Linked DNA regions of Homo sapiens: all the other regions are reported to be linked to region 2. The links are microRNA targets in miRTarBase. Many come from high-throughput screens and were not tested one by one. Region 2 holds a microRNA gene; each other region holds the end of a gene's coding sequence.

Region 1 (7,227 bases), not on the chromosome of region 2:
AGGCTCAGTCTGCGGCCAAGACTCCGTCCTGCAAGGTAAGGTCCCCTCCAGGGGCAAGGCTGGGCTGCAGAGCCAGCGCCTGGGAGTTTAGTAGCAGGCCGGGTTTCCTTGTTAAGACAAGCATGGGACTGTCCAGGATGAATGTGGGTATACAGAACCCTGAGGTATTGCAGTAGGGTTGGGTTCACCCTTGCTGGTGTAGAAGGCTGTGTTGTCCGAGTGGAGGTAGATGGCACCTTTATTCCTTTCCCTGCCTCTTCCACTGGGATCACACAGAAAAAGTTTAGGTAGGCAGATCCCAGGCCCCCTGGCCAGGTAAGGCAAGGCGGGAGAGAAGGGCCCAGGGCTTCTACTCCCCAAGATCCAGGGGTCTGCCCTTGTGACATACCCTTCTGCTGCCCCCAGGATATTGTGGCTGGAGACATGAGCAAGAAAAGCCTCTGGGAGCAGAAGGGAGGCTCCAAGACCTCATCAACAATTAAGGTAGAGCCTAAATGTGGTTGGTGCAGGCAGGGTGGGTGCAGCAGGGGAGGGCAAAGAGGGACTGTCCTCTGTGCATCTGGGAGGGCTTCCCAGAGGCGGAGGCAGCATCATCTCCTTTCTGCTGCTCTCACCTTCACTCTTGGTCTCCTTTCCCAACAGAGCACCCCATCTGGGAAGAGGTATAAGTTTGTGGCCACCGGGCATGGGAAGTATGAGAAGGTGCTTGTGGAAGGGGGCCCGGCTCCCTAGGCGTCCCATCTCGGTGAGTCCCTGGCAACTCACAGAAGGGGATGAGGTGCACACACGTGCACTGTGCTGGGAACTTGGCAACCTGGAGGCTGCCTGGAGCCCTGTTGCAGGCTACAAGGGTGGACTCCGAGTTGGCCAGAACCCAGACCAGCTCAGTCTCCCAGTCCTGTGCAGATGCTGCCTCTCTCACCTGATACCAGATTCAAACTCTCTGCTCATTTCACTAGAGTCAGCCCGGCTCAGCCACTGCTCCACTAGGGAAGCTCAAGGCTCCCATCTGGGACTCCCCAAAAGCCACAGCAGGGCTCGTGAGGGAAGTGAGGGGCAGCCTGGCCACCACAGGGCTAGCATTGAAGGAAGCAGGTGGCATGGAGCCCAGGTTCCCTGACCATCTGTATGCTGAGGGTCCATAGAGGGGCAGGAACTTAGGTCCTACTCCCTGTCCCAGCCGAGAGCGATTCAGAGGTCCTGATGCCCTCCCCATCCCATGCTGCAGACAGAGCAGTGCCACTCCTGCCATGGTGAGACACACATTTATTAGTGACCTGGGCCCCAGGCTCCATTTCCAGCACCCATCACACCACAGGGTGGGGCAGCTGTCCTCCTACCATCTTCCCCTGCCAAACCCTGACTCTCAAGCAGCTGTGGCAGAGGCTTTTTCTGGTACCTCTGTGTCCCTCTCCTGTGGTTGGCCACCCCCACCAGAGCCTGGCTGACTGCTGAGTAGGCCCCTCCACTCTCCCCACCAGGGCCACAGCCCCTTCTCTGTCCCGCTTGGCCAAGCTGTTCCCATAGGGTTGGGACTGAGGGCTCCCTCCTCATCCAGCTGTCAAAGCCTGGGCATGGCCAGTGCTGAGACCCTCGCTGTCCCACCAGCGAATCCCTCGAGTTCTGCCCCCTCAGGCTGTCAGCCCAGGTAGGGGAAGCAGAGGTGGGCCGAGAGAGAGGTCACGCTGGGCCCTCCTCCACCCCTGATGAGCCCCTCCCTGCCTGCCCCTGAGCACTTGTATTGGTGCCAAGTCCCACGCTGGCTGAGGGCTCCCCCCTGCACCCTAGTCCCAGGATCTGGCTCTGCCATCAGGAAGCACAGGCAGCAAAACTGCTGACTGCTCCTGACGCCGATGGCCAAGCCAGCCTGACCGCACCCATGCCTCAGCAAGCAGAGATCTGGCCCCAAACCTTTGACAGCAAAAGGTGACAGCAAAAGGGAGGATCAGTGAGAGGCCCAGGCCCCTGAGGAGCCTGGGCTAGGTCAGTAGATGCAGTCCTCTGCCATCTTACCTAAAGTTTTCATCCCAAGGCCCCCATCCTACATCCCGACGCAGACCCCTTCTCTGTTCCCCTCACACCACTGCAGCCCAGGGGCTCCAGCTCGTCCTCTCTGCCCCGTCCACCTGACCACCCTCCTAACCATGCAGACTTCCCTCAGCACCCCATGTGCCCTTCCCAGGCTGCCCTGCACCCCATGCCCCTTGGGCCCTGGTGCATCTTCATGCAGCAACTATGGGCCCCCAGCTAGAGCCTCAGCCCCTTCTTCTGTCCATCCCATGGTCCTGGGCTCTGGGGGCCATTCTGGCCACTTCACTGGAGCCTCCAGCCAGTCGCTGTGCGGTTGAAGTTCTTGGGCTGGGGGCTCAGCTCCAGGATGGAGCGGACTGTGGGAGGGGGCCGGGTGGCCTCCTGCAGCTTCCGGGCGTTGAAGCGAGGCCGGTACAGGAAGGGCAGGCGGGTGAGGCTGGCTGGGGTGTGCTCCCCACCGCTGGGCCCTGCCAGGCGCCCTTGGGCCTCCGCCACTGACATGCGGTACAGCACGGCATCCCACATCCTGGAGGTCCGGGAGGCGGGGGCCCGGGGTGCGGTGAGGGCGGGCACCTCCTGCTCTGTGGGGGCAGGCACCTCCTGCTCTGTGGGGGTGGGCACCTCTGGCTCCAGGCTCTGCCGCGGCTCTGGGCACGGAGGCTCTGGGGCCTCCTCCAGCAGCTGCTTCTTGAGCCACGTCCAGCCACTGAGCCGGGGCTTGGGTGCAACTTTGGGGACAGGGCATGGGTGAGGGCCTGATGGTGGGGTAGGGGATGAGGCCCAGGCAGGGCTGGACACTCGCTCGGCCTCAGCGGCGGGGCCAGCCATCGGGGGCTCCTCCAGGTGCTCTCTGCCAGGGCCCATGGGGACCAGGCTGTGCGGTGAGGACTCCAGCGAGCGGCAGGTCGGGGCTATGGGCACCACAACCCTGGCACTAGCCTCTCTGGGCACTGAGGCCTGGAAGCCGGGTGGCGGCCGTGGTACAGGGGGCTCCTCAGGCAAGGGACTGGCAGCCTGGACTGTGGTGGGCAGTGGGCGGATGTGAGCCACTGGGACCAGGGGCTGGGCCCTGGGGGGACTTGGGGTGGCATCTCCATCCTGGCTGTTGGATCCCACTTCTGGGGCTGTCCTGGGAGGCTCAGGGGTCCCATTGTGTGGGGATGGTGCCAGCTGGATGTGCACCTGGGTGACGTGGGTGCCCCCACCCCCAGAGACAGGGACGAAGCCACTGGGGGGCCGGGTAGGTTCTGGGGCCGAGGCTACAACCTGGGGCCCCATGGCCCTGAATTGAGCAGCTAGAATCCTGCGCTGGGTGAGGCCGATGGAGAACGTGGACTTCTGCAGGGGTGATGCCACGTGGTGGATGATGGGGGTGTGCGGGGAGCGGGGTAGGGCAGCCACCATGCGGGGAGCCTCGGCGGGGCGTGGGGCTTCAGGAAGGCGTGGGGCTTCGGCGGGGTGCGGGCCCTCAGCAGCGTGCGGGGCTGTGACCTCCTGGTCATGGCTGGCCTCACTCACGGGGGACAGGGAGGTGCGGAAGGCCCTGGGTGGAGCGAGGTGTGTGCCTCCCATCATCTTCTTCCGGGCTGCCTTCCTCAGGAGCTTCTGCAAACGCAAGTTGTCCTTCCCTGGCTTGGGCAGCAGGGGCGGTGGGGGTCCAGGGGTTCCCTGGAGGCTTGGGCCGCACACCTCGGGTGCCATCGACGCAGCCGATATGAGCATGACTGTGTCCTAGGGTGGGAGGGACAGTGGTCAGGCCAGCCCTCCTCCCTCCTGAGGTGGGAGGCCTGTGTCTCCTGTGGTCCAAGGAGGACCTGGGGCCAGGGGTGTGGAGGCCTGAGTATTCTGCTTCCTGAGCACCCAGAACCTGCCAGGGACATGCTGAGCTCGACTGTGCCTTGGGGACTTTGGGGTGGCCCCACCATCACCCTAGTGTAGAAATGAGGCCACAGAGGCCGAGTCCCTCCAGGGATGGGGCTAGAACCTGCCTCCAGGGCTCTGTCCTCCATGCCACCCCAGCACAAAGCAGGCCCCAAGTACACAGCCTGGGTCAGGCCGCAACACCGTGTGGGCTGGGGTGGGAGACGGAGACGCGGGTGAGCCCCAAGTGACAGGCATGCCCCTGGCCAGCTGCTGGCCAAGCCCAGGGCTGGAAGAGCGGCTGCCCCCAGACACGTGAGGGGCGCCCTGTTGTCGCCGGCTCAACCACAGGCGCGTCCGCTGCGAGCCAGCGGTGAGGGGTGGCGGCCAAGAGGCTTGGGAAAGCCGAGGCTGCATCATCAGAGGTAGATTGGCCGGAAGGTGGGAGCAGTTTTCGCTGAGCTATGCTAAATGGGATATTCCCGCAGACCTCCTGTCTGGGGTGGCCCGGCCAAGCCGCCCACCCTGGTTTCTGGGCACCACGTGTTTGCAAGGACATTGACAAATGGCATCTGTCCGAGCCAGAGGCTCTCTGGTTTGGGGAAGGAGGGAGTCCTGGGGGCTGCCGCTGGTGGGGGCTGGCTCTGCCAAGGCAAGAACAGAGCTGCTGGAGGGGTGGGGGCGGAAGGAGCCTGCTTAGGACTGCTCTCAGCTACCGGCCTCCTCTGGATGACGGGACTGCAGGAACCACGAGAACCCCAGTTCTAGCTCCCAGGGTGGGCAGGCTGCTTGGCAGGCAGGCCGCCTTCCCTCCACCAGGAGTCAGGTCTCCAGCCAGAGGTCCTGACCCAGGGCACAAGTGCTCGCACTGGGAAGCAGGCCTCTGAGGCAGGACGTCTTCTCCTGTGGTGGAGTGGGGGTGTGGGCAGGGCAGGGAGGCCAGCAGAGAGAGGCTCGGGGAGCAGGCTCTGTGGGCTTGCAGGAGGCAGGTCTGTGGCCCCTCCCTGGACCCTAGCCTAATGCCCCCTGCACCCCATGCCTATGTTCCAGCTTCCTGGGTCTGCAGGTCCAGCCGGCTGGCACCCTCCATGTACCCAGGGGAGATTCCAGCCAGACACCCGCCCCCCGGCCCTGGCTAAGAAGTTGCTTCCTGTTGCCAGCATGACCTACCCTCGCCTCTTTGATGCCATCCGCTGCCACCTCCTTTTGCTCCTGGACCCTTTAGCCTCTCTGCCCTTCCACTCTCTGACCACCGCCCCCGCCCTCCCCACCCAGCTCCGCTTCTTGTTACTTGGGGGAGGAAAGAAACTCCTGATCATTGGCCAAAGGGACTTACCCCTGGAGAGGCCAAGTGCCTTCTAGGAAGTTAGGAGGTTGAGGCACAGCCTGTGCAGAGAGGGTGGGTCACCCCCCCAGATCCAAGGAGAAACTGCAGGTCAAGGGCTGATAACGGCCATGCAGGATGCTTGATGCTGCGTCCCCCGCTGCTTGCCGCCCCCCACCCCGCCATTTTGTATAATAAAGCTCCCTGTGTATTCTCATGTGCTGGCTGTCTTGTACTCACTAAGGGGGCAGGGCTGGCCAGGATGGAAATGTTGGGCCAGTGGCCAGCCCATTCCCACACTGCACAGCATGCTGTGGCCTCTGGGTTCAGGCAGTCTGACCTGTCTCATGGCCTTTGCAGTATAAGACGCCAGGACATAAGCTCTCTGGTGGCCTAAGTCAGAGCACACACAATGGGTGGGGTCCGGGCTTCCTTTTCCAGAATGTCTGTGATATCCCTACCCCAACCAGGACTAGCCCAATATAAACTTCTGTGCCTTGACTTCGCACCCACTGAGGGCAAGATCCACCTCGGGGCCTCCCCCAACACCACACAGGAGGTGCTCAGTGAAGGTTTGGAAAACAGACAAATGGGTGGATGGGTGGGTGGATGGATGGATGGGTAGGTGGGTGGACGAATGGATAGATGAATAGATTAATGGATGGATGAGTGGATGGATAGGTGGGTGAATGGATGGGTAGGTGGGCGAGTGGATGAATGGCTGGGTGGGCAAGTGGGTGGATGGATGGATGGGTAGGTGGGTGGACGAATGGATAGATGATCAGATGAATGGATGGATGAGTGGACAGATAGGTGGGTGAATGGATGGGTAGGTGGGTGAGTGGATGAATGGCTGGATGAGCGAGTGGAGGGATGGGTGAGTGGATGAATAGGGGATGGATGAATGGATAGAGGGATATGTGGATGAGTGAATGAGTAAGTGGGTGGGTGGGTGGATGGATGGATTGATGGATGGATGAGTGGACGGATAAGCAGGTGAATGGATGGGTAGGTGGGTGAGTGGATGAATGGTTGGGTGGGTGAGTGGAGGGATGGGTGAGTGGATGAATAGGGGATGGATGAATGGATAGACGGACATATGGATGAGTGAATGAGTAAGTGGGTGGGTGGGTGGATGGATGGATTGATAGATGGATGGATGAGTGGACGGATAAGCAGGTGAATGGATGGGTAGGTGGGTGAGTGGATGAATGGTTGGGTGGGTGAGTGGAGGGATGGGTGAGTGGATGAATAGGGGATGGATGAATGGATAGAGGGATGTATGGATGAGTGAATGGGTAAGCAGGTGGGTGGATGGATGGACTAATGGATGGATGAGTGGGTGAATAGGTGGGTGAATGGATGGGTGGGTGGGAGGATGGCTGGCTGGCTGGCTGGCTGGCTGGATGGATGGATGGATGGGTTAGTGAATGGATAGGTGGATGGATGAAAGGAGGGATGCATGAGTGGATAGGTAGATGAGTGGATGGATGGATGAAGGGATGGCTGGATGAATGGACAGAGGGAGAGAGGGGGGATGGAGGGAGGGATGAGTGAGTGAATGGGTAGGTGGGTGGGTGGATGGATGGATGGAAGGAGCGATAAATGAAGGGATGGGTAGGTGGTTGGATGGATGGATAGATAGATAATGGAGGGATTGATGAATGAAGGGATGGATGCATGGATGGGTAGATGGATGGATGGATGAAGGGATGGATGAGAGTGGATGGACAGGTGGATGGATGGATAGGTGGATGGATGAATGGAGGGATGGATGTGTGGATGGGTAGATGAAAGGATGGATGAAAGGACGGATAGATAGATAGGTGAGTGAGTGAATGGATAGGTGGATGGATGAATGGAGAGATGGATGAGTGGATGGGTAGATGGGTGGGTGGATGGATGGGTGAAGGGATAGATGAATGGATGGACAGAGAGCGGGAAGGATGGATGGAGGAAGGGATGAATGAGTGGATGGGTAGGTGGGTGGGTGGATGGCTGGAGTGTGGGAG
Region 2 (7,000 bases):
GGAAAGGAGATGGGAGAGGAGAGACTGAAAGCGAGGATGGAGAGAGGGTGGGGAAGGCTCCTTATGTGTCACACTAAGAAGTTTGGGTTTTCCCTCTGTGGAAGGTGAGGTGCCATGGAAGGGTTTTGAGAATGGGAGTGGGATCACATGTAGTGGCTCACGCCTATAATCCCAGCACTTTGAGAGGTCAAGGTGGGAGGATTACTTGAGCCCAGGAGGCAGAGGCTGTGGTGAGCCAAGATTGCGCCACAACACTCCAGCCTGGGTGACAGAGGGAGATCCTCTCTCAACAACAACAACAGTTTGGTTTCATGTCTTGATATGCAGTGTGGGTGGCTCTATGGAGGATGGATTTGAGGGGGGCAAGACTACAGACAAGGAGACCAAGGAGGGAGATGTTGTGTTGGTTCTAGTGAGAGATGGTGAGGGCGGCTACAAGTAGGAAAGAGCATGGAATGGAGAGGACTTTGAACTTGACAGGTCCTGATAATTGCATGGACGGGGGGAGGGGGGTGGGGGAGGAACAGTCTTAGCTAATGCTGCCTCAGCTTCCCGAGTAACTGGGATTACAGGTGCACACCACCACACCTGGCTAATTTTGTATTTTTAGTAGAGATGGGGTTTCACCATGTTGGCCAGGCTGGTCTTGAACTCCTGACCTCAAGTGATCCACCTGCCTCAGCCTCCCAAAGTGCTGGGATTACAGGCGTGAGCCACCTTGCCCAGCCTAAAGAGGTTTTATAGATAAGAAAGTTGAGGCATAGAGAGGCTAAGTGACTTGGCTGAATGGCACATGGCTAGCAAGTAACCAACTGGGACTCACAGCCGTGTAGTTTAACTCCAGCGCCTGCTCTCATCATCACTGTGCCATGCCTGTCCTGACTGGTCCAGGAGGGCAGGAGAGGGGGTCTCGATGACCCACCATCCCCACCACTGCTGCCACCAGCAGGAATTTTACTTGGGTGACCGAGTGGGTGATGGTGCCATTGACTGATGATTCTAGAAGGGAGTGGAGAGAGATGCTGGTTTCCATATTACACCTGCTTAGTGTGATGTGCCTGTGGACACCCAGAGGAGGAAGGCATCTCAGGCTGTGCCCTTCCTCCTGGAGCCTCTTGTCACTGAGCCACAGGGCCTCTACACCAACACTAAATCACTATACTGCTTTCCATTTAGATGACAATTTGATTTAAACAAATTCTGGTGGTGCAGGGTCAAAATTTTTCATAATCTGAAGTGATTTTTCTCTGTTTCCAGTCCACTGACTGGATGGCAGATTAAAATGTGAGGGTTTGACAAAAAGATAATGGAGCCGTGCCAGCCTTTAGTGTTTCAGGCATAAAATTAAATTCAACATGGTATCATGCATTTGAAGACTTGTCATCATAAGGCTGGCCAGACAAATATGCTTTAGAGGGTTTGGTTTTGAGAATGAGTAGGAGAAATAAAATATGAAATATGATAATAGTGGAGACTAGACGTATTTTGAAAAACATTATCTGATGGTGTTAAGCCATCCTTTTTGAGCGCATTGTTTAATGCTGCCTTCTTTTCTGCCTGTTTGACCAAGGGACTCTGAAGTGTTGGACAGGTTCCACTACTGAAATATGCAAATTTAACATTCCCTCTCCCCACATCTACACCACCCCTTTCTTTCTTTCTTTTCTGTTTTTTGAGACAGTCTTGCTCTGTCGCCCAGGCTGGAGTGCAGTGGTGTGATCTCAGCTCACTGCAACCTCCGCCTCCCAGGTTCAAATGATTCCCCTGCCTCAGCCTCCCAAGTAGCTGGAATTACAGGCGTGTGCCACCATGCCTAGTTAATTTTTGTATTTTTAGTAGACACTGGGTTTTGCCATGTTGGCCAGGCTGGTCTCAAACTCCTGGCCTCAGGTGATCTGCCTGCCTCAGCCTCCCAAAGTGCTGGGATTACAGGCATGAGCCACCATGCCTGGCCCCTTTCTTTCATCTCTCCTAATTTTTTCGACATTCTCCTACCCATTTTCTCCTTTCCTGGGCCTTCAATTTGTGCCCACCTCCACCCCCATCCTCACCCCCCATCTTCTTGTTAGCTGCATAGTTTGGTCTGGCTATAGACTTTCCAAGTTCTGAAGGTAAAACTGACATCAAGTTCTTCCCATCTGGTCTACTGAGTGCACCCTGCAACCTTAGCCTAGGCACTTTGGCACCTTCTGTTTTAGCGGCTGTCTCTGTCCATGGTGGGCTTGGTGTCTTGTTGCTTCTGTTCCTCTGAGTGAAGTGTTCAAAGCCTCAGACTCCTGAGGCTCAGCTCTGTGCCCTGGCCTTCGAGGCTTGTCACTTCTGCCGATATAAGAAGTGAAATATAGGTCAGCCTCACAGATCCCAGTGTTAAAAATAAAAGCTTCATCCCCAGGCTCTGCAGGTCTGTAGATTGGCATGGGTTCCCCCACTTTCCAGCAACCACTCTTCTAAATTGCTTCTTGGAGCTTAGTACTGATGCCATCCGCTATGCAAGAGGGAACCTGAAAATAGAAGAGGAGCTGAGATCGTCTCCCTTGGCAAATGCCATTCCAAAATGTGAAGATTGCCTGAATGGAAATTGTAAATAGCAGCACTGAGCAGGTTTCCTCCCTGTCGGGTTAGGAGGGTGGGCTGCTGGTGAGGGGAGGGTGGGTCCTGGGGGGAGCCTGGAAGGAGTCCCTCTCCCTCTTAGGACCACCCAGACCCCTCCTGTGGCAGCCAAGTGACCACGCACTGAGATTCCTAAGTATTTTGATGAAAGGACTTCTCCTCCCTCTCTCTGCTTTCCCATTCTTAGTCCTTGCATTTGAGCTTTCTCAGAAGATTTAGCTGCTTTTCTGTGATATGAAAACTGAGGAGGTTGAAAAGCAGGGCCTTTGAATTTATTTTTAGTATCTGCACATTTCTCTCTTCCTGCATTCTCTCACTTTCTTCTCTCCCTTCTCCTTTCTCTTCTGATTTCCCGCTTTCTCTCCCTGCACTGTCATTCTCTTTTGCCCTTCTTAACTCCTGCAAAACGGGGAGATAAGTTTTCCTCCACATAAGAAGCCAGGGCCTCTGAGAAGCTTGTCTTTGAACAGATGCCTCAGCCTTGCCCCTTTCTCAGGTCTCATTTTTCGGGCGAGTCTGTGCTTGACAAGAGACTGCGTTATCTTGTGGGAGGACCCTAAGGAGCCAGGGTACTTGACATTTAAAGCTTTTCATAAACAGTGTCTTCAGTGCTTGGCAAACCTTGAACCCTCCCAGCTGGCAGCAACGAGGCTTTCTCATCAGGACTGGCTCAGCCTCGGATGTGACATTTTCCCAGGGCCTCAAGGAAATGGAATACGCCCTGTCTGCCTTTTAATCCCTCTCAGTTGGATTTTCATAGACTTCTGTCAGGGGGGTATGTGCTGGCTGCTTTTCCTATAAACTGGAGTCAGGGGAAAAGGGGAAGATGGCTGAGGGGGGAGGCAAATATGGATGCATTTAATACACATTTGGCAGGTCAAGCAGAAATATCATTGGTTACATAGTTTTTTGATGCTATCCTCCAGGCCAAATTAAATGACTTCTTTGGGAGTAGAGAAGGGCTTAAAAACAGTGATTTGGGTGACACCCTATGAACATTCTAACCTGAAACCCTTCCCCGCAGGTGACTCAGCCCACAAAGAGCCACACTCCTGGCAGATGTGGGAAATGGACACTATCACTGTCAGAGTCCACCCGCGTGACTCTGGGGCGCACTGCTTTGTGCCTTTAAATTCAGCCCTGCCACTGGCTTATGTCATGACCTTGGGCTACTCAGGCTGTCTGCACAATGAGCCAGTTGGACAGGAGCAGTGCCACTCAACTCTGGCCATACACAGAACCCCCCACCCCCACCCCAGGGAGCTTTTAACACACATAGCCATCTAGAGAATGTGGATTAATTTGGTCTCAGGTGAGGCTTGGGTGGCTGTAAAAGCTCCCCAGGTAACTCTCACATGAAGTAGGTGAGACATGCTCCCTAGACACATGTCTCTCAAACTGGAATGTGCACAGGAATCACATAGGATCTTGCTAAAATGCAGACTCCAGTCCTGTGGTTTTCAGTGGGGCTGGGGATTCTTCTCTTCCCATGTGCTCCTGGGCAAACTGATGGTGTGGGTCCCCAGAACACACTCTGCACAGCCAAAGTCTGGATGGTCTTTAAGGTCCCTGCAGTTCCTTACTGAGTTTTCTTGGTGAGGAGAGGGCAGGGAATTAAGTAAAAGATATATTTTAATGGTAGCAAAGAGGACCTCCCTTTTATCACTGGGGTAAAGTCATGTCATTTTTGGGAAAATGTGATGCAGTATTTGGTGGGTAGGATTCAATTTGTATCCATTTTCAACACTGGAGTAAGTTTATTTAGGGGGAAAAAGGGAAACAGATGTAGCTGTGTGTGTGAAGAATGGGGAAGAGAGAGAAGCGTGAAAGAACTGAGTGGATGTGTGTGTGCTCACAGGGCGAGGATTCCATGCAAACAAATACATAGGCTTCTCCAGGTCCAGTTTTGGTGAGGGGACAGGAAAAGGGACAGATATTGTTCAGCTGGGATTTAAGGTGAAGATCATGCTCCCTGGAACAACCCAAAGGCTGGAAGATTCCATCTCCTCAGCCCCATCTCTTTCTGGTGCTAAGCAGCCATTTGTTCCAATTATCCTTGAATTATAGTGACAGCTTTTGGTTTATGCAGGCCTTCAAATCATCCTAACCTAGTAGAAGAAGTAAAATGATGCCTTTATTGACAAGAACATTTCAGCTGGCTGGTTTTAAAAGACTCTCTTCTTCCCACCTATTCCCACGTCCCTGTGCTTCCACCTCACTAAGAGCCACAGACACCATTTTGGAGTGTCAAGATCTTGCCTGATTTTGCATATATATATATATATATAATTTTTTAAAATTCAAGGTCAACCTTGAGAGATATTGCTTGTATTCTGCCTTCTGTTTTCCCTAATCCTTATAGAACTACAAATTCCCATACATGAGCAGATTTTCCTGGTTTAAAATTATATTTAACTAAAGTTAAATACTTCAGGCCTTGTGATGGTGATTCTCCTGCCCACAGACTTATGGGGATTTCTTTTGCTTTAAAGCAGGTCTTTAACAGGGCAGTATTTCTTGCTAAAATCCACAATCCAGGGTTTTGTCACTGTTCTATTTTTAGAAATTCTTCCAATTTGTAGTCTAAAGGAGAGGAATGTTTTTCTAACAAAGATATTTTCCAATCTAGAGAAAAGAGGCTGGGCGTGGTGGCTCACGCCTGTAATCCCAGCACTTTGGGAGGCGGAAACTGGCAGATCACAAGGTCAGGAGATCAAGACCAGCCTGGCCAACATGGTGAAACCCCATCTCTTCTAAAAATACAAAAATCAGCTTGGCGTAGTGGCGCGTGCCTGTAATCCCAGCTACTCGGTAGGCTGAGGCAGGAGAATTGCTTGAACCAGGGAGTCAAAGGTTGCAGTGCGCGGAGATTGCACCAGTGCACTCCAGCCTGGTGACAGAACAAGACTCCGTCTCAAAAAAATAACTAACTAACTAAATAAAAGTAAAAGATTCAAAAGATTTTAAAGTTATTAATCCTTGTGCTCTGAAACAGACATTTATAACTTTAAAACAGCATATATAGGGACCTTACCTCCCTGACTGATGTACATAGGATTTGGCTTTTCTCAGTCCTAAGAGATTTAAAGATTTAGTGAAACATAAAGAACATATTTTAAGCAATATCAATATGCAGGCCCAATGTAAATGTCCCCATGAATGTCGAATGCAAGTAGTTAGTCCTCAAACTCCTCTTCTCTTAGCCGGGTATGGTGGTGCATGCCTGTAGTCCTAGCTACTAAGGAGGCTGATGTGGGAGGATTGCTTGAGGCCAGGAGTTAGAGGCTGCAGTGAGCTATGATCACGCCACTGCACTCCAGCCTGAGCGACAGAGTGAGACTCTGTCTCTAAAATACAAGTTAAATGAAAAACTCCTGTTCTGTGTCACACATTTGTTGATTTTGCTCATTTATTTATTCCACCGATACTTATTATGGGCTTATTGTATGCTTTATGATGGGTTTACACAGCTCTTTGTGAAGCCCTGAAGATACCATGGAAAACAAAAACAGACCTTGTTCTCATGAAATTTGAAGACTGGGGAGGAAGACATAGTCACAGAGGTTAATATGTAAGTGCTGTGAGAGGAGGGAACACGGATCTAAGAGCATATAACCAAGAAACCAGCCTAGCCTGGGCTGACTTGCTGAATGTTTCACTAGTTGGGGAACTCTGGGAAAGGTAAGTTCTTTGGCATTTGCTGCCCAAGGTTTAGAGGAACTCTGTGCTAGAGAGCCCTTGGCAAACAACTTCACTTTGGCCTTAAACATGAGATTCACTACCTGTAAAATGGACTTCTGAGTCCTCCCTACCTGTCCACCTAGCAGACCGTTTCGTCAGAGCTTCCTCTTCTCCAACAGTGCTTTCTTTTAAACAGACATAATGAACTGCCTTTTGGTTTCATGACTTTTTTTTTTTTTTGCTACAAGCAGCTCTCTTGTGGCTGGCAAAAGTAAAGCCATATTCTCGAGGACTCAAAAGACTCTCCATGGCTTCCCTGGATCTTGAAGAACATTTTTTCTCCAAGTAATTTTATTAGCCTGGGTGGACACTTGCAGTCAGTGTCACCATTACATTCTTAATCTTTACAAAGTGTGCTTATTTGCTTCTAATTTTGAATGTCTTTTTATTCCCTTTACTTCTTGCATGTGTGAAGAAGTAATTGTTACACAGATGTTTTGGAGATAGTGTTTGGTCCTGTGTTACTCCTGCAGGGTGTAGGTAGCTCCTCCTTGTTCTCAGTCTGTCGACTCAGCTACTTTAAACACAGAGGATGGGGAGATGGATCTCAAAGTTATCAATGTGGAAGACCATGTCTGTAAGTGCCCCGGCCCTCCCAATGGCCATCCCATGCCAACTCTGGCTCTCAGCCACCTTACTTGATAATATT
Region 3 (7,000 bases), not on the chromosome of region 2:
TAGATTGGCTCCTGAGGCAGCGTAGTGTTGTGAGGAGTGACTAGGCTGGGCAGGGGCACAGCACAGTGGCAAGCATGGTGATGGGGGCCAGGGGAGAGACGATGCTGGCCTGGCCAAGGCAGTGGCAGGAGGACCAAAGGAAGTGGACAAATGCCACCCTGCAGAGGATGCGGCGGACGGAAGGAATGGTAGGCTCTTTGCTGAGATAAAGGACCCAGTAGCAGATCTTTGGTGCTTTGGCCTGTAAGGCTGAAGTGTGCACAGGGCAGTGTGGGAGGTGCCCACAGCAATGCAGCCAGGCCCTGGCTCTGTGTGCCCTTGGGTGTCATTTAAGCTCCTTGAGCCAAGTGTTCTCATCTGCCAACTAACAAGAATGCCAGCCTGCTTCGGAGAGTGAGTGTGGAGCCCACCCTCAGGCAGGGAGCACCCTGTAGCCTGCTTCGGAGAGTGAGTGTGGAGCCCACCCTCAGGCAGGGAGCACCCTGTAGCCTGCTTCGGAGAGTGAGTGTGGAGCCCACCCTCAGGCAGGGAGCACCCTGTAGCCTGCTTCGGAGAGTGAGTGTGGAACCCACCCTCAGGCAGGGAGCACCCTGTAGCCTGCTTCGGAGAGTGAGTGTGGAGCCCACCCTCAGGCAGGGAGCACCCTGTAGCCTGCTTCGGAGAGTGAGTGTGGAGCCCACCCTCAGGCAGGGAGCACCCTGTAGCCTGCTTCGGAGAGTGAGTGTGGAGCCCACCCTCAGGCAGGGAGCACCCTGTAGCCTGCTTCGGAGAGTGACTGTGGTGCCCAGCCCTCAGGCAGGGAGCACCCTGTAGCCTGCTTCGGAGAGTGACTGTGGTGCCCAGCCCTCAGGCAGGGAGCACCCTGTAGCCTGCTTCGAAGAGTGAGTGTGGAGCCCACCCTCAGGCAGGGAGCACCCTGGGGACACACACATGTCTGCATCCTCAGCTCAGAAACCACCATCATCAGAGCTAATGTCTGTTGGTACCTCCACACCCTTTGCATGATTAGCTTCATCTTCACCGATGAGGAAACAGAGGCAACTTGGAGGTTAAGAAACTCACCAAGGGTCTCGCTTTCATCCCCCTGCCGTGCTCCCAGTGAGTGTGTGGCCCGAGAAAACATGCAGAGCGATATGGTTCAAAAGCACTACAGATAAATCAAGATGCAACCCTAAAACATGTTCAAATAACCTTCAAGAAAGTAAGAAAAGAGAAACAGGAAACAGAACGTGAGTAATCAAATGGCAGACTTCGGTCCATCTGCAGGGCATCGCTCCGAGCACCTGAATGTGTTGGGTAGGTAGGAGGAGGCACGTATTGGCTACTACCAGTCTGGAGCAGTGTGGGCAGTGGAGGGAGTGGCTGGGAGCAGCAGGCTGCAGGCAGGCTCTGAGTCTGAAAGGCTCCCAGACAAGGGCAAGAGCTCACATAGTAAAGGAGCAGTAAGGGGGCATGGTTTTTTCGGGAGGCTTTGCCAAGTCTGGCCTGGTCAGGTAGAGCATTTTGAAAGGTCTGAATGAACCTCTGATGTTTATGTATTGAGCACCTATGGTCGGTTAGATGAGAGTCTACTGAGCACCTGGGAGGGAGGCTTCAGACAGGATTCCAGTCCCGTGGGCCTGCTGTGGCACTGCCGAGAAGACAGCGTTCAGTGTCAAATCCCTACCCACTCCACCTGGGGGTGGAGCCAGGTTGGGGCCAGGGGGCTAGTTATGTGACCTTAAGCAAGAGCCTTCCTCTCTTTGGCCCAAAGTTGCCTAGTTTATAAAATGCAGCTATGACGGCACCCAGCAGGTCCTGGGCGTGGCCTGCCCTGTATGGCCTAATGCCCCACCTGCTGAGCTGGGCGCCCTCAGGGCACAGAGGGCCCTCTCTTTTGTCTCTTGCTAACCTGGCGCTGCCATTACATCTCCCCTTCATCCTGTAGCTCTTTCTCACACTGCTATTCCACAGCAGAGTCGGGCTGGTGATCAGGCATGCCAGGGCCCTGGTGGGAAGGGATGGGAATGCATTTTGGCTGCTAGCTGGCTTGTCTGCCCAGTGCCCCCATGGCTGCCACTTACATCTGGCACAGAGTTTGGATTCAGACTCAGGCTAAATCCTAGCTCCTCCCCTTCTGAGCTGTGTGACCTGGGGCAAGTCATTCCCCTCTCTGAGCCTATCTCCCTGTCTATCAAATGGGCACAACCACCACAGACAAGGTGGTGTTGAAGAGAGGATTCTGCGTGGTCCTTGAAAGATATTTCTAATTCAGCTAAACCCCATCACCTCCAGCCCCAGAGTTACCTTTTCTGACCCAGAGCTGTTCCTGCCTGGCAGACCGGGGGACCTCTAGTTAGTGCCAGTTTCCTCAGAGCATTCCTGATGGCTCAGGAAAAGAATAACAGATGTAATTAACTCCCAGTGACTGGCAGCATCGTGTTTTTATCTGGGCTGCGTCACCATGGCAGCCTCATGGCAGGGTTGTCGAGGGGGCGGGCAGAGCTATGGTTCCTGCCATTGTCTGTTCTGGAACGCAGGCCCAGGAGAAGGGGACTGGCAAGGGCACCAAGTGGCACGTGGCTGAAGGCAGCCATGGAGTCAGACAGGAGCCATCTGGGGAGAAGTGTGGGGTGGCCATGGCCTGGCTTCCCCCCAGCCTGGGGCTCAGGCTCCCTGTGGCTCTCGAAGCAGTGTGTGTGTGCCTCGGGCACGCGGAGGGTAGGGTCCGTGGGGCTCCTGGAAGAGGCCCACAAAGTAGCCCAGGCAGCGCTACCCCCCACCCCACTCAGGCTAGAGTTTTGTGGCCAGGCCTGGGTTCAAATTATGGTGCTACCACCTGCCATCTACACAGCCAGTTGTTCCCCCAACTCCTCGTCTGTAAAATAGGAATCATTCCAGTTACCCCAAAGGCTTTCGTTCAAACCTGTGTGTATAAGGCATTCAGGAAAGGCTCAGTTCTGTTCTGTGGGGGCGGTGAGCAGTCACCTGCCACCCTTCACTCTCAGAGTCAGGGCTCCCTCCTACCTCCCTCTTAGGGTGCAAGGTTCCCCCTCTCACCCGCAGCTGTGGAGAGGAGGAAGCGGAACTAGAGATGCCCATCTGGAGTGAGTGCAGGACCAGGTGGGTACGAAAGACTAGCTTCCAACCCTCATCTAGTTTTCCTCCCCTCCGCGAGAGGGAAAGGGAGACGGCGGCCTGAAGACAGAGGCAGAGCCAAGTGGGGCTGTGCAAGGGCAGGAGGCGGGGAAGCGGAGTTGGAGCAGGCAGGGCGCCTGGAGGAAAGGAAGAGAGTGTGGCCCACGCCCGGCGCGGCGCGCTAGGCTCAGACAAAGGCAGGGCCGGTGGCACGCATTACCAGTCGGAGCCACCCGCCTGAGCCCCCCTACGGGAGCGGCGGGAGACCCGGAGGGCGCGGTGCGGAGCCAGTTGTTCCGGGCTTTGGGCAGCCAGGGGCTGCCAGGCGTCTGTACAGGGCGTCGGGTGGCTGTCTGTGGGGCTCTAGGAGATGTACCACCCTTTCCCCGCCGCACAGCAACGGCGCCGAGACGCCTCTTCAGGGACCTGGTGCGCACAGGCTCCTGAAACCCTTTGGCCCCGGGACTGCGGATGGCGAATCTCTCGTTCGGACTCAGAGCTGGAGTCCGTCCTTCGCGCGCCCCCTGCTGGCCCGCCTCGGCTCCCCTCGGCGCCCGGGCTCCGCGGCGGCGGCCGGGGCTCAGATCGGGGAAACCCTACCGGGGAAACCTCGAGGCGTGACGTCACCCTCCTCGGTGACGTCACCGGGCCCCCGGGGAGCGCGAGGTTCCCACGGAGGAGGCTTTCCCCGGACTGCGCAGGGCGCGGGCGGGGGCCGGGAAGTCGTTGGGGGCCGCGGCGCGCCTTCACTGCGCCCCGTGTCTGCCCTACAGGTCCCGCGCGGCCCCGGGTGAGGCACGCCCGCGCGCCCGCCGGCGCCATGGGAAGGAGCGGGCGCCGCTGCTGTCCCCCGCCGGCGCGCGCACGACTTGAGACCTGCCACGGGCAGCCCCCGGCCGCGGGTCCCCGAGTGACGCTGGCGGCACCTGAGAGTGTGGCGCGGGCCCGGGGCCACGCAGCGGAGCCCAGTGTCCAGTGAAGCGTCTGAGGACCCGCCGCCCGTGCCGCCGCCATGGTGATGTCCCAGGGCACCTACACGTTCCTCACGTGCTTCGCCGGCTTCTGGCTCATCTGGGGTCTCATCGTCCTGCTCTGCTGCTTCTGCAGCTTCCTGCGCCGCCGCCTCAAACGGCGCCAGGAGGAGCGACTGCGCGAGCAGAACCTGCGCGCCCTAGAGCTGGAGCCCCTCGAACTCGAGGGCAGTCTGGCCGGGAGCCCCCCGGGCCTGGCGCCGCCGCAGCCACCACCACACCGTAGCCGCCTGGAGGCGCCGGCTCACGCGCACTCGCATCCGCACGTGCACGTGCACCCGCTGCTGCACCACGGGCCCGCGCAGCCGCACGCGCACGCGCACCCACACCCGCACCACCACGCGCTCCCGCACCCGCCGCCTACGCACCTGTCGGTGCCGCCACGGCCCTGGAGCTACCCGCGCCAAGGTGAGTACCGACCTCCGCCAGGGGGCGATCCGGGCCGCCGGAAGTGGGCGGGCGTTGGAGGGCTCGCTGCTTACCCTCAGGGCTTCCATCCGCAGCCTCCGGGAGAACACGGGCGGCGGCGGGCTCGGGTTCGGGCTAGGGCTGGGGCGCGGGCGGCCCCTGGCCGGGGCCTCTGCGAGAGGCTGGGAACCGGCGGCCTCACCTCCTCCGACCGCCTCCCACTCCGCAGCGGAATCGGACATGTCCAAACCACCGTGTTACGAAGAGGCGGTGCTGATGGCAGAGCCGCCGCCGCCCTATAGCGAGGTGCTCACGGACACGCGCGGCCTCTACCGCAAGATCGTCACGCCCTTCCTGAGTCGCCGCGACAGCGCGGAGAAGCAGGAGCAGCCGCCTCCCAGCTACAAGCCGCTCTTCCTGGACCGGGGCTACACCTCGGCGCTGCACCTGCCCAGCGCCCCTCGGCCCGCGCCGCCCTGCCCAGCCCTCTGCCTGCAGGCCGACCGTGGCCGCCGGGTCTTCCCCAGCTGGACCGACTCAGAGCTCAGCAGCCGCGAGCCCCTGGAGCACGGAGCTTGGCGTCTGCCGGTCTCCATCCCCTTGTTCGGGAGGACTACAGCCGTATAGAGGGGCGCCCGGCGCCCCGGGCCCCACCGGCGGACTCCTGGCCTGACTGCGGGGCTTTTTAAATGCTTCCCTGGACTGCGGGGAGGGGCGGGGGGAGGGAGGGATTTCTTATCCCGTTTGTTACATTTTGAGGATAATAAAGGTGTGTGATCTGGTTTGGTACAAGCGGAGGGTGCACCGGCTGCTTTCGCCCAGGGTTCTGTGTGACCAGACAAGCCGGGGCCTTGGCGGGAAGGACCCTCAACGTGCGTTTCCGCCACAACAGAACCTAAGGGTACAGCACTAAGTCTAAGACCAACCCTTCTCCGGTGGTTGTAGGTGCCAAGCGGCTTCCCCTGGGAGCCTTAGCCCCTAGCACCGCCCCCCCACCCCGCCCCCGCCTGGCGGGCCTTGGAATTAGGGTGAGGACGCCCCCTGGTGGCAAGGAGGTGCTGCGGCCTCGGAGGTGGGAGGAGTTGGGAACCTGGGTCAGGGCAGGCGGCAGCCCGAAGGGATCTGGATTTCTTTATTAACAGACATGAGCACGACCCGTTACAGAAGTTTGTGCTTTCCAAAAAAAAAAAAAAAAAAAAAAAAAAAACAGTTACTAAACGTGAAAAAGGAACCCAAGCAAAGAGGAAGGAGTTGGGGAGGGGCCACCAAAGCCCCTGGGCCCCATCCATAGCCCTGACCTGAACCGCGCCTAGGGCCTCCAACCTGGGACCTGCCCGGCAGGAGACGGGGGGTAGCCGAGGGGCCCCAGCTGGGCCTGCTACTTCCTTTGGGCCAGACAGGAAGGGGTCAAAAGAAGGGCGGGGAGGGGGTCCCAGGGAGCCAGAGCCCACGAGCCATTTATTGCCATGTTTTAAAATTCGTGCAAAATATCTGAAGCCCTGGACAGAGAATACAAAGTGATATTTTCCCAAGAAACATAAAACTAGGAAAAGAGGTGGGGGACATTTTCCCACCAGAGCTCCCCCCACGCCAGGCCCCAAGCAGGGTGAGGCCTCCAACCCGGCCAGCTGAGCAGGGAGGACTAAGAGCTACAATCTGGACCAGGGAAGGAGGGGTGGAATTTGCAACAGCGTCTCAACTACCAACGAGAGGAAAGCCAGTCAACTGTACAAGTCTCCTATCAACTTTTTAAAAAAAGAGAAAAGCTGTAAAAGTCAGGCCCTGTGGGTAGGGAAGCGGCCAAGTCCCCAGCCAGGGCCGGAATCCGGAGTGGGTGCCAGGCGGAGCTGCTGCGAATGCAGGCACGGCGGGCCGTCTGGCCAGAGGCTGATGCAGGTGGGCGGCCTTGGCAAGGGTAGCCTAGGGCTGGCGCCACCGCTAATCACCACCCTCGAAGCCCTCCTCCTCTTCTGGAACTGGGTCTGCATCCCAGCATGTGATGTCGATCTCTGTGGCGTTAGAAAGGGAGAGGAGTTAGGGACCTAGCAGACCGCTTGTGTCCCCAGCCTCTGTGAGCGGTGGGTAGTGGTGGGGTGGCTACCCACACTCAAATCCAGCCCCCGCACCCAAATTCCTCCCCATCATCCAGCCCAGTACTACCTGGAGGCTTGTTGTAGAACACAGGAGGCGGAGCCTTGGCACAGAGCTCTTCCGATTGGGCAAACTCCTCCTCCTGTGATTGACTGAAGTACCCCTCACTGGCCTGCAGGGGAAAGCATCAGGTCACTTGGCCCCACCCAGCAGGACTGGGGCTGACCTATCAGGCCTGAGCCCGTTTCCCCAGCAACCAATGATTCCATCAGTGGTTGCCAGGGAAACAAGGATGCCTGCCTTGGGAACAAAAGCAGAGCCGGCCCAGGGAGGGAGGGTGGGATGGACTTCCC
Region 4 (7,227 bases), not on the chromosome of region 2:
AGGAGCTGGGAATGCCAAGGTGATGGGGGGTATGGGGAGCTCCTTAGAGGGAGGAAGTCCTCTCCTGTGTGGAAGCCAACTTCTCCACACTCACCCTGCAGACTCCAGCACCTATGCCACTTTTCTCTTCAATGCCTTTGACACCAACCATGATGGCTCGGTCAGTTTTGAGGTGAGCTGGGCGAGGTGGGCCAGGGAAGCCTGTTTCCTGGAGTTCAGGGCCAGGATCTCCAGGCCAAACCCAGAGAAGGAGTTGGGTGAAGAGTACCCGAGGACACAGCTCCCTCCTGCCTCCTTCCCAGGACTTTGTGGCTGGTTTGTCCGTGATTCTTCGGGGAACTGTAGATGACAGGCTTAATTGGGCCTTCAACCTGTATGACCTTAACAAGGACGGCTGCATCACCAAGGAGGTGCAGGGCAACTGAAGGGCTGGGGGTCTGTGGCGGTGATGGGGGTGGCGTGCAGAGGGTGATGGGAGGGAAATATGACCCACATATGCCCACAAGCAAGGGATCAAGGGAGGCTGGAGGCTCTGAGGAAGGATCCTCTTCTCTCTTGGCCTAACAGGAAATGCTTGACATCATGAAGTCCATCTATGACATGATGGGCAAGTACACGTACCCTGCACTCCGGGAGGAGGCCCCAAGGGAACACGTGGAGAGCTTCTTCCAGGTACTTGGGAGTGGGTAGGCTGGAGGGCCCTGGAGTGAAGGGAAGAAGGCCAAGAACCAGCAGGGAACTCACCTGACTTCTGTCTGCCTCTCTCTTGCCATCCCTCCTGTTCTCCCTGCCTGACCACCTTCTTGCAGAAGATGGACAGAAACAAGGATGGTGTGGTGACCATTGAGGAATTCATTGAGTCTTGTCAAAAGGTACAGCTCCCTGCCCTCTACATTACCCTGACCTGGACTCAGGCCTGATTTAGTAATGCAGGGAAAAGCTTCTTTGGGAAGAATACCACCTTCCCACCTCACCCCCATATTTCAATCCTATTCCTTTGTGGGAGGCTTACCCCTTCCCTACCTCAGGTCTCTCTGGGCATCTCCTTCCTCTGTGCTTTTGAATGTCCCCGTCTGTGACTCAGTGTCCCTCTCACTGTCTCTGATAAGCTCCTTCTCTTTCTCTCTCTTCAATCTGCCTCGCTCACATCATGGCCACAGGATGAGAACATCATGAGGTCCATGCAGCTCTTTGACAATGTCATCTAGCCCCCAGGAGAGGGGGTCAGTGTTTCCTGGGGGGACCATGCTCTAACCCTAGTCCAGGCGGACCTCACCCTTCTCTTCCCAGGTCTATCCTCATCCTACGCCTCCCTGGGGGCTGGAGGGATCCAAGAGCTTGGGGATTCAGTAGTCCAGATCTCTGGAGCTGAAGGGGCCAGAGAGTGGGCAGAGTGCATCTCGGGGGGTGTTCCCAACTCCCACCAGCTCTCACCCCCTTCCTGCCTGACACCCAGTGTTGAGAGTGCCCCTCCTGTAGGAATTGAGCGGTTCCCCACCTCCTACCCCTACTCTAGAAACACACTAGACAGATGTCTCCTGCTATGGTGCTTCCCCCATCCCTGACCTCATAAACATTTCCCCTAAGACTCCCCTCTCAGAGAGAATGCTCCATTCTTGGCACTGGCTGGCTTCTCAGACCAGCCATTGAGAGCCCTGTGGGAGGGGGACAAGAATGTATAGGGAGAAATCTTGGGCCTGAGTCAATGGATAGGTCCTAGGAGGTGGCTGGGGTTGAGAATAGAAGGGCCTGGACAGATTATGATTGCTCAGGCATACCAGGTTATAGCTCCAAGTTCCACAGGTCTGCTACCACAGGCCATCAAAATATAAGTTTCCAGGCTTTGCAGAAGACCTTGTCTCCTTAGAAATGCCCCAGAAATTTTCCACACCCTCCTCGGTATCCATGGAGAGCCTGGGGCCAGATATCTGGCTCATCTCTGGCATTGCTTCCTCTCCTTCCTTCCTGCATGTGTTGGTGGTGGTTGTGGTGGGGGAATGTGGATGGGGGATGTCCTGGCTGATGCCTGCCAAAATTTCATCCCACCCTCCTTGCTTATCGTCCCTGTTTTGAGGGCTATGACTTGAGTTTTTGTTTCCCATGTTCTCTATAGACTTGGGACCTTCCTGAACTTGGGGCCTATCACTCCCCACAGTGGATGCCTTAGAAGGGAGAGGGAAGGAGGGAGGCAGGCATAGCATCTGAACCCAGTGTGGGGGCATTCACTAGAATCTTCAATCAACCTGGGCTCTCCCCACCCCACCCCAGATAACCTCCTCAGTTCCCTAGGGTCTCTTCTTGCTTGACTCAATCTACCCAGAGATGCCCCTTAGCACACCTAGAGGGCAGGGACCATAGGACCCAGGTTCCAACCCCATTGTCAGCACCCCAGCCATGCGGCCACCCCTTAGCACACCTGCTCGTCCCATTTAGCTTACCCTCCCAGTTGGCCAGAATCTGAGGGGAGAGCCCCCAGAGAGCCCCCTTCCCCATCAGAAGACTGTTGACTGCTTTGCATTTTGGGCTCTTCTATATATTTTGTAAAGTAAGAAATATACCAGATCTAATAAAACACAATGGCTATGCACAGGCTGCCGTCTCTGCCTTTTGTCCCTCCCACCTACAAATACTACACAACCCCTAACGAATGCACCTGCAGCCTTTTAGATCCCCAAGAAAGTGGCTTTCTTTTCCATAGTTGGCCATACCTTGGCATGAGACTGAGACACAGGCTCTGGAATGGTTGGAAACCCACCCAACCTCAGGCCCCCACATGAATCTCCCTCCCACACAGCCTGAGAGGAGACAAGGAAGGAAGGACAGGACACTGATGTCCCGAAGACTGTGCCAAGCAAGCTGTTTTTTAGCTGACATTCTTACAAGTTGAATCACAGATTTCTAATTTACAGACTTTTTAGTTAATCTCAAAGTGCTTTCTTTTGAGGGGCCTCCCTTTAGTTTCTTTCTTTTTTTTTTTTTTCTGAGACAGAGTGTCTCTCTTTCGCCCAGGCTGGAGTGCAGTGGCGTGATCTTGGCTTTACTGCAGCCTCCGCTTCCTGGGTTCAAGCAATTCTCCTGCGTCAGCTTCCCGAATAGCTGGGATTAAAGGCGTGCACTGCCATGCCCGGCTAATTTTTGTATTTTTAGTAGAGACAGGGTTTCGCCATGATGGCCAGGCTGGTCTCAAACTCCTGACCTCATGTGATCTGCCCGCCTAAGCCTCCCAAAGTGTTGGTTACAGGCGTGAGCCACCATGCACAGACCTTCCCTTTAGTTTCTAATGAAAGTTCCTTTGTGTCAACATTCCAACCTTGCCTCCAGTATAGATAAATATTTTTTGTGTCCATACCCCAGCCAGGAATGATGGGGGAATGAGATGGAGTGGACCCAGCGCAGGTCACCATGAGGCAGATGGCACAAAGGATGACATGGACTTTCTGTGTGTTCCCACTCTTTCTTTGTTCTGCTCCTGCAGAGGGACCCACCAATGGTTGGTTCCTCTCATCCTTTCTCTGGGTCACCATTATGGGTGACTAAGCTTCACCATCCATAGGAGGAGTAACAGGCCTTATCCTCCCTCGTGATGAAGTCAAGGGGAGAGATATGTTGTCCAAAAAGCAAAAACTCACTTTTAGCGTCCATTGTTTTATCATCTGTGTTCCCTGCTTATATCATCAAAGAACCATCTGCTTCTTGGGCCCTTGGGTTTCTTTGAGTCATCAACATAAAGATCTGATAAAAGCTGTGGGCCCACTATCCAGAAGAAAGAAAAAGGCAAGAATTCCCATGCATTTTTGTATCCCTGAAGCTCATCTATGGGTCCTAAGTTAAGAACCTGTGATCTAGAGTGAGTGCAGCGGCTCACGCCTGTAATCCCAGCACTTTGGGAGGCTGAGGTTGGTGGATCACTTGAGGTCAGGAGTTCAAGACCAGTTTGGCCAACATAGTGAAACCTCATCTCTATTAAAAATGCAAAATTAGCTGGGCATGGTGGCGCATACGTGTAATCCCAGCTACTTGGGAGGCTGAGGCCAGAGAATCGCCTGAACCTGGGAAGCGGAGGTTGCAGTGAGCCGAGATGGCACCACTGCACTCCAGCCTGGGCAACAGAATGAGACTCTGTCTCAAAAAGAAAAGAACATGTGATCCAGTCTAACCCTCCATTTCATAGAAGAAGCAGGCTCAGAGAAGGGAGACTTGCTCAAGGTCACTCAGTGAGTTTGTAGCAGGACTGAGGCTAGACTCAATCCCTCAAGTCTGTCAACAGTGGCCTTTGGGCACAGTCAAGAGTTGTATGTGGGCCGGGCGCAGTGGCTCACACCTGTAATGCCAGCACTTTGGGAGGCTGAGGTGGGCAGATCACGAGGTCAGGAGATTGAGACCATCCTGGATAACACAGTGAAACCCTGTCTCTACTAAAAATACAAAAAATTAGCCGGGCATGGTGGCAGGCGCCTGTAGTCCCAGCTACTCGGGAGGCTGAGGCAGGAGAATGGCGTGAACCCAGGAGGCGGAGCTTGCAGTGAGCCGAGATCGTGCCACTGCACTCCAGCCTGGGTGACAGAGCGAGACTCCATCTCAGAAAAAAAAAACCAAAGAATTGTATGTGAAGAGTGGATGCTGTGCATGTTATGCATAATCCAAGCAAAGTGACACTATGACAGGCTCTCACAATGCCCTCTGCTTTTCCTTTATGGCACTTCTCAGTTTGTAACCATATACTTACTTGGGTAATTATATACTTGTCTTCTCCTATACACTGTAAGTTCCTGAGGGCTCCCTGAGTGCCTGGACTAGGGTTTTTTTCTTCACCATCTTATCCATGGGGCCTGGCACACAATAATGGATGTAAGGACATCCATTATTCAGTAAATAATAATGGATGAAAGTACATGGTGAATGTGTGTATATAATTACATAGGTATGGAGACAGTTGTTTTTTCTTTTGAGACTGGGTCTCACAATCTCAGCTCACTGCAGCCTCCACCTCCCAGGCTCAGGTGATCCTCCCACCCCAGCCTCCCAAGTAGCTGGGACCACAGGTGCACACCACCACGCCTGGCTAATTTTTTGTATTTTTGGTAGAGACAGGGTTTCACCACATTGCTCAGGCTGGTCTCGAACTCCTGAGCTCAAGCAGTGTGCCCACCTCAGCCTCCCAAAGTGCTGTGATTACAGGTGTGAGCCATCACGCCTTGCCCAGTTTCCATTTTCTAAGGTAGATTCAAGTTTAGTGGGATTGAAGCAGAGAACTGCTAGTAAGCTGAGAAGTGCCCCAGAGCCCAAGCCTACAGATGAGATCCAGAAAAAAAACAGTAGGTTGGCATTCAGATTGTCACCCAGGCTGGAGTGCAGTGGAGTGATCTCCACTCACTACAACCTCCGCCTCCCGGGTTCAAGCGATTCCCCTGCCTCAGCCTCCGAGTAGCTGGGATTACAAGCACATGCCGCCATGCCTGGCTAATTTTTATATTTTTAGTAGAGACGGGGTTTCGCCATATTGGTCAGGCTGGTCTCGAACTCCTGACCTCAGGCGATCCACCCGCCTCAGCCTCCCAAAGTGCTGTGATTACAGGTGTGAGCCACTACGCCAGCCTCAGATTATTTCATCTTGGCCATTGGTTGGGTTCTGAGTGTTGTCAGCTGCTCCATCTCAAAATACTCTCCTTTCTTGCCTTCCAGTATTTCCTACGCTCCTGGTTTTCCTCGTGCCCTTCTGGCTACCCCTTCTCAGCCCTCCCTTATAGACTCATCCTTCTCAACTTGAATTTTAAATCTTAGGCCCTACAGCTCAGACCTAAGCCTCTTTTCCAAACCACCCCTAATCCCATGGCTTTAAACACCGTCGATATGCAGAGGCTCCTAAGTTTATATCCCCAGAACTCTCTCTTCTGAAATCCAAAACCTGTCTATCCAATTGCCCCCCGCTTTTTTTTTTTTTTTCCTGTCACCCAGGCTGGAGTGCAGTGGTACAATCACAGCTCACTGCAGTCTCAAACTCCTGGGCTCCAGCGATCCTCCCACCTCAGCCTCCAGAGTAACTGGGACTACAAGTGTGTGCCACCCACACCCTGCTAATGTTTTAATTTTTTGTAGAGATGGGGTCTCACTATGTTGCCCAGGCTGCTCTTGAACTCCTGGGTTCAAGTGATCCTCCTCCAGTCTCAGCTTCCCAAAGTGCTGAGATTACAGGAATGAGCCACCGTGCCTAGTCCAATTGCCTATTTGATATATTAATGTGGACCTGTAATGGTTGAACTTAACATGTTCAAAATGGAGCTTAGATTCATGCCTTTCCAGTCTTTCCCATCTCAGTAAATGACACCAACATCCATCTAGTTGCTCAGGTCGAAATTTAGAAGTCTCCATTTCTTCCTCTCCTTCATTCTCCCTCCACCCCCATTTAATCAATCACCAATTCTACCACCAAAGGTACACCACCTCTCTCTCTCTGATGCTGTTTCCTAGCCCAAGCCACTATTGCTACTCACCTAAATTACTCCTTCCTATTTGTCCATCTGAAGTAGCTCCTCCTTGATGCAGTTGGCAGGTTTCTTCCCTTAATAGCCCTTACCACAAACTGTGAGTTCCTATGTGTGTACTGAATTTGTTATTGTCTGGTTCTCCAAACAGAATGTAAAATCTGTGAGGGCAGGGCCCTATCTCATTCATTCCGCAAATATTCATCATAGGTCTACTAAGCACTGTTACTGTTGTAGGTGTTGGGGGTGGGTGGAGAGAGGTGTGGTATGGTGAGAAAGTGTATAGCAGTTATGTGGCAAGAACCACTCTTCAAATTTGAGGGACACAGAAATGGGGCAAACCTTCCCTATGAGACTGGACTATGGAAAGTAGGAGAAATTGTGGCTGCTGACTTGCTGGCAGTGATTAAGGCAAAGAGGAAAATGTCATGAGACTAAGGACATCAGCCAGAATGACAGCCCCCAAATCTCCTGTCAACCTATAAGGAAGAAGCTGAGGCAAAATGAATACAAGTAGAGAGTTTATTATAAGCTTGAGGATTGCAACGAAAGAGCATAGATTCAAGTTGCCCTAAATAGACACTCTGATTAGCAGCAGTTACAAGTGGATTTTTATAGGGAAAGAAGAGGCAGTTCCTGAGTTATTTACCAACAGTTTACATTAAAATAACATAAGCTATTGATTGGCTATACATTGTTAAACTATAGGGTGTGTGTTAGAATGTCCAGTACAACATTATTAGGT

Evidence for each region. Region 2 holds the annotated microRNA hsa-miR-575 (GAGCCAGUUGGACAGGAGC, at 3,802-3,820, shown strand). A microRNA usually pairs through its seed, bases 2 to 8, with sites in the 3' UTR of a target mRNA and lowers its output. Matches are read on the target gene's strand: a 7mer-m8 pairs with bases 2 to 8, a 7mer-A1 pairs with bases 2 to 7 and ends in A, and an 8mer does both.
Region 1: miRTarBase lists LSP1 as a target of hsa-miR-575. Seed matches in the 3' UTR shown: 7mer-A1 at 5,023-5,029.
Region 3: miRTarBase lists DBN1 as a target of hsa-miR-575. Seed matches in the 3' UTR shown: 7mer-m8 at 6,272-6,278.
Region 4: the mRNA of KCNIP2 is a reported target of hsa-miR-575. Seed matches in the 3' UTR shown: 7mer-m8 at 1,622-1,628.

The regions. Positions count from the first base shown.
Region 1 is chr11:1,886,832-1,894,058 of GRCh38, forward strand. It overlaps LSP1 (lymphocyte specific protein 1), which reads left to right. Exons shown (of 11, transcript NM_002339.3): 8 at 1-35; 9 at 406-483; 10 at 643-745; 11 at 4,942-5,432. The coding sequence ends at 732. PRR33 (proline rich 33) reads right to left here and starts at 5,064. Exons shown (of 1, transcript NM_001395380.1): 1 at 1,247-5,064. The coding sequence starts at 3,753. The coding sequence ends at 2,314. RefSeq lists a silencer at 376-542.
Region 2 is chr4:82,750,172-82,757,171 of GRCh38, reverse strand. It overlaps MIR575 (microRNA 575), which reads left to right and starts at 3,742; the gene lies at 3,742-3,835. The region is part of intron 1 of SCD5 (stearoyl-CoA desaturase 5); the gene reads left to right.
Region 3 is chr5:177,450,939-177,457,938 of GRCh38, forward strand. It overlaps DBN1 (drebrin 1), which reads right to left. Exons shown (of 15, transcript NM_001363541.2): 14 at 6,717-6,819; 15 at 5,672-6,565. The coding sequence ends at 6,495. PRR7 (proline rich 7, synaptic) reads left to right here. Exons shown (of 4, transcript NM_030567.5): 2 at 3,018-3,102; 3 at 3,891-4,556; 4 at 4,786-5,348. The coding sequence starts at 4,130. The coding sequence ends at 5,183. Among named protein-coding and RNA genes, the nearest start is that of PRR7-AS1, 6.5 kb to the left of the region's middle. RefSeq lists silencers at 2,927-3,016, 3,527-4,136, 3,586-3,817, 4,327-4,876, 4,967-5,106 and 1 more and enhancers at 3,422-4,122, 4,370-4,664, 6,229-6,929.
Region 4 is chr10:101,821,334-101,828,560 of GRCh38, reverse strand. KCNIP2 (potassium voltage-gated channel interacting protein 2) reads left to right here. Exons shown (of 10, transcript NM_173191.3): 6 at 102-172; 7 at 303-410; 8 at 568-672; 9 at 810-872; 10 at 1,161-2,587. The coding sequence ends at 1,208. KCNIP2-AS1 (KCNIP2 antisense RNA 1) reads right to left here. Exons shown (of 3, transcript NR_045118.1): 2 at 622-701; 3 at 1-380. Among named protein-coding and RNA genes, the nearest start is that of KCNIP2-AS1, 5.9 kb to the right of the region's middle. RefSeq lists enhancers at 1-975, 3,475-3,769.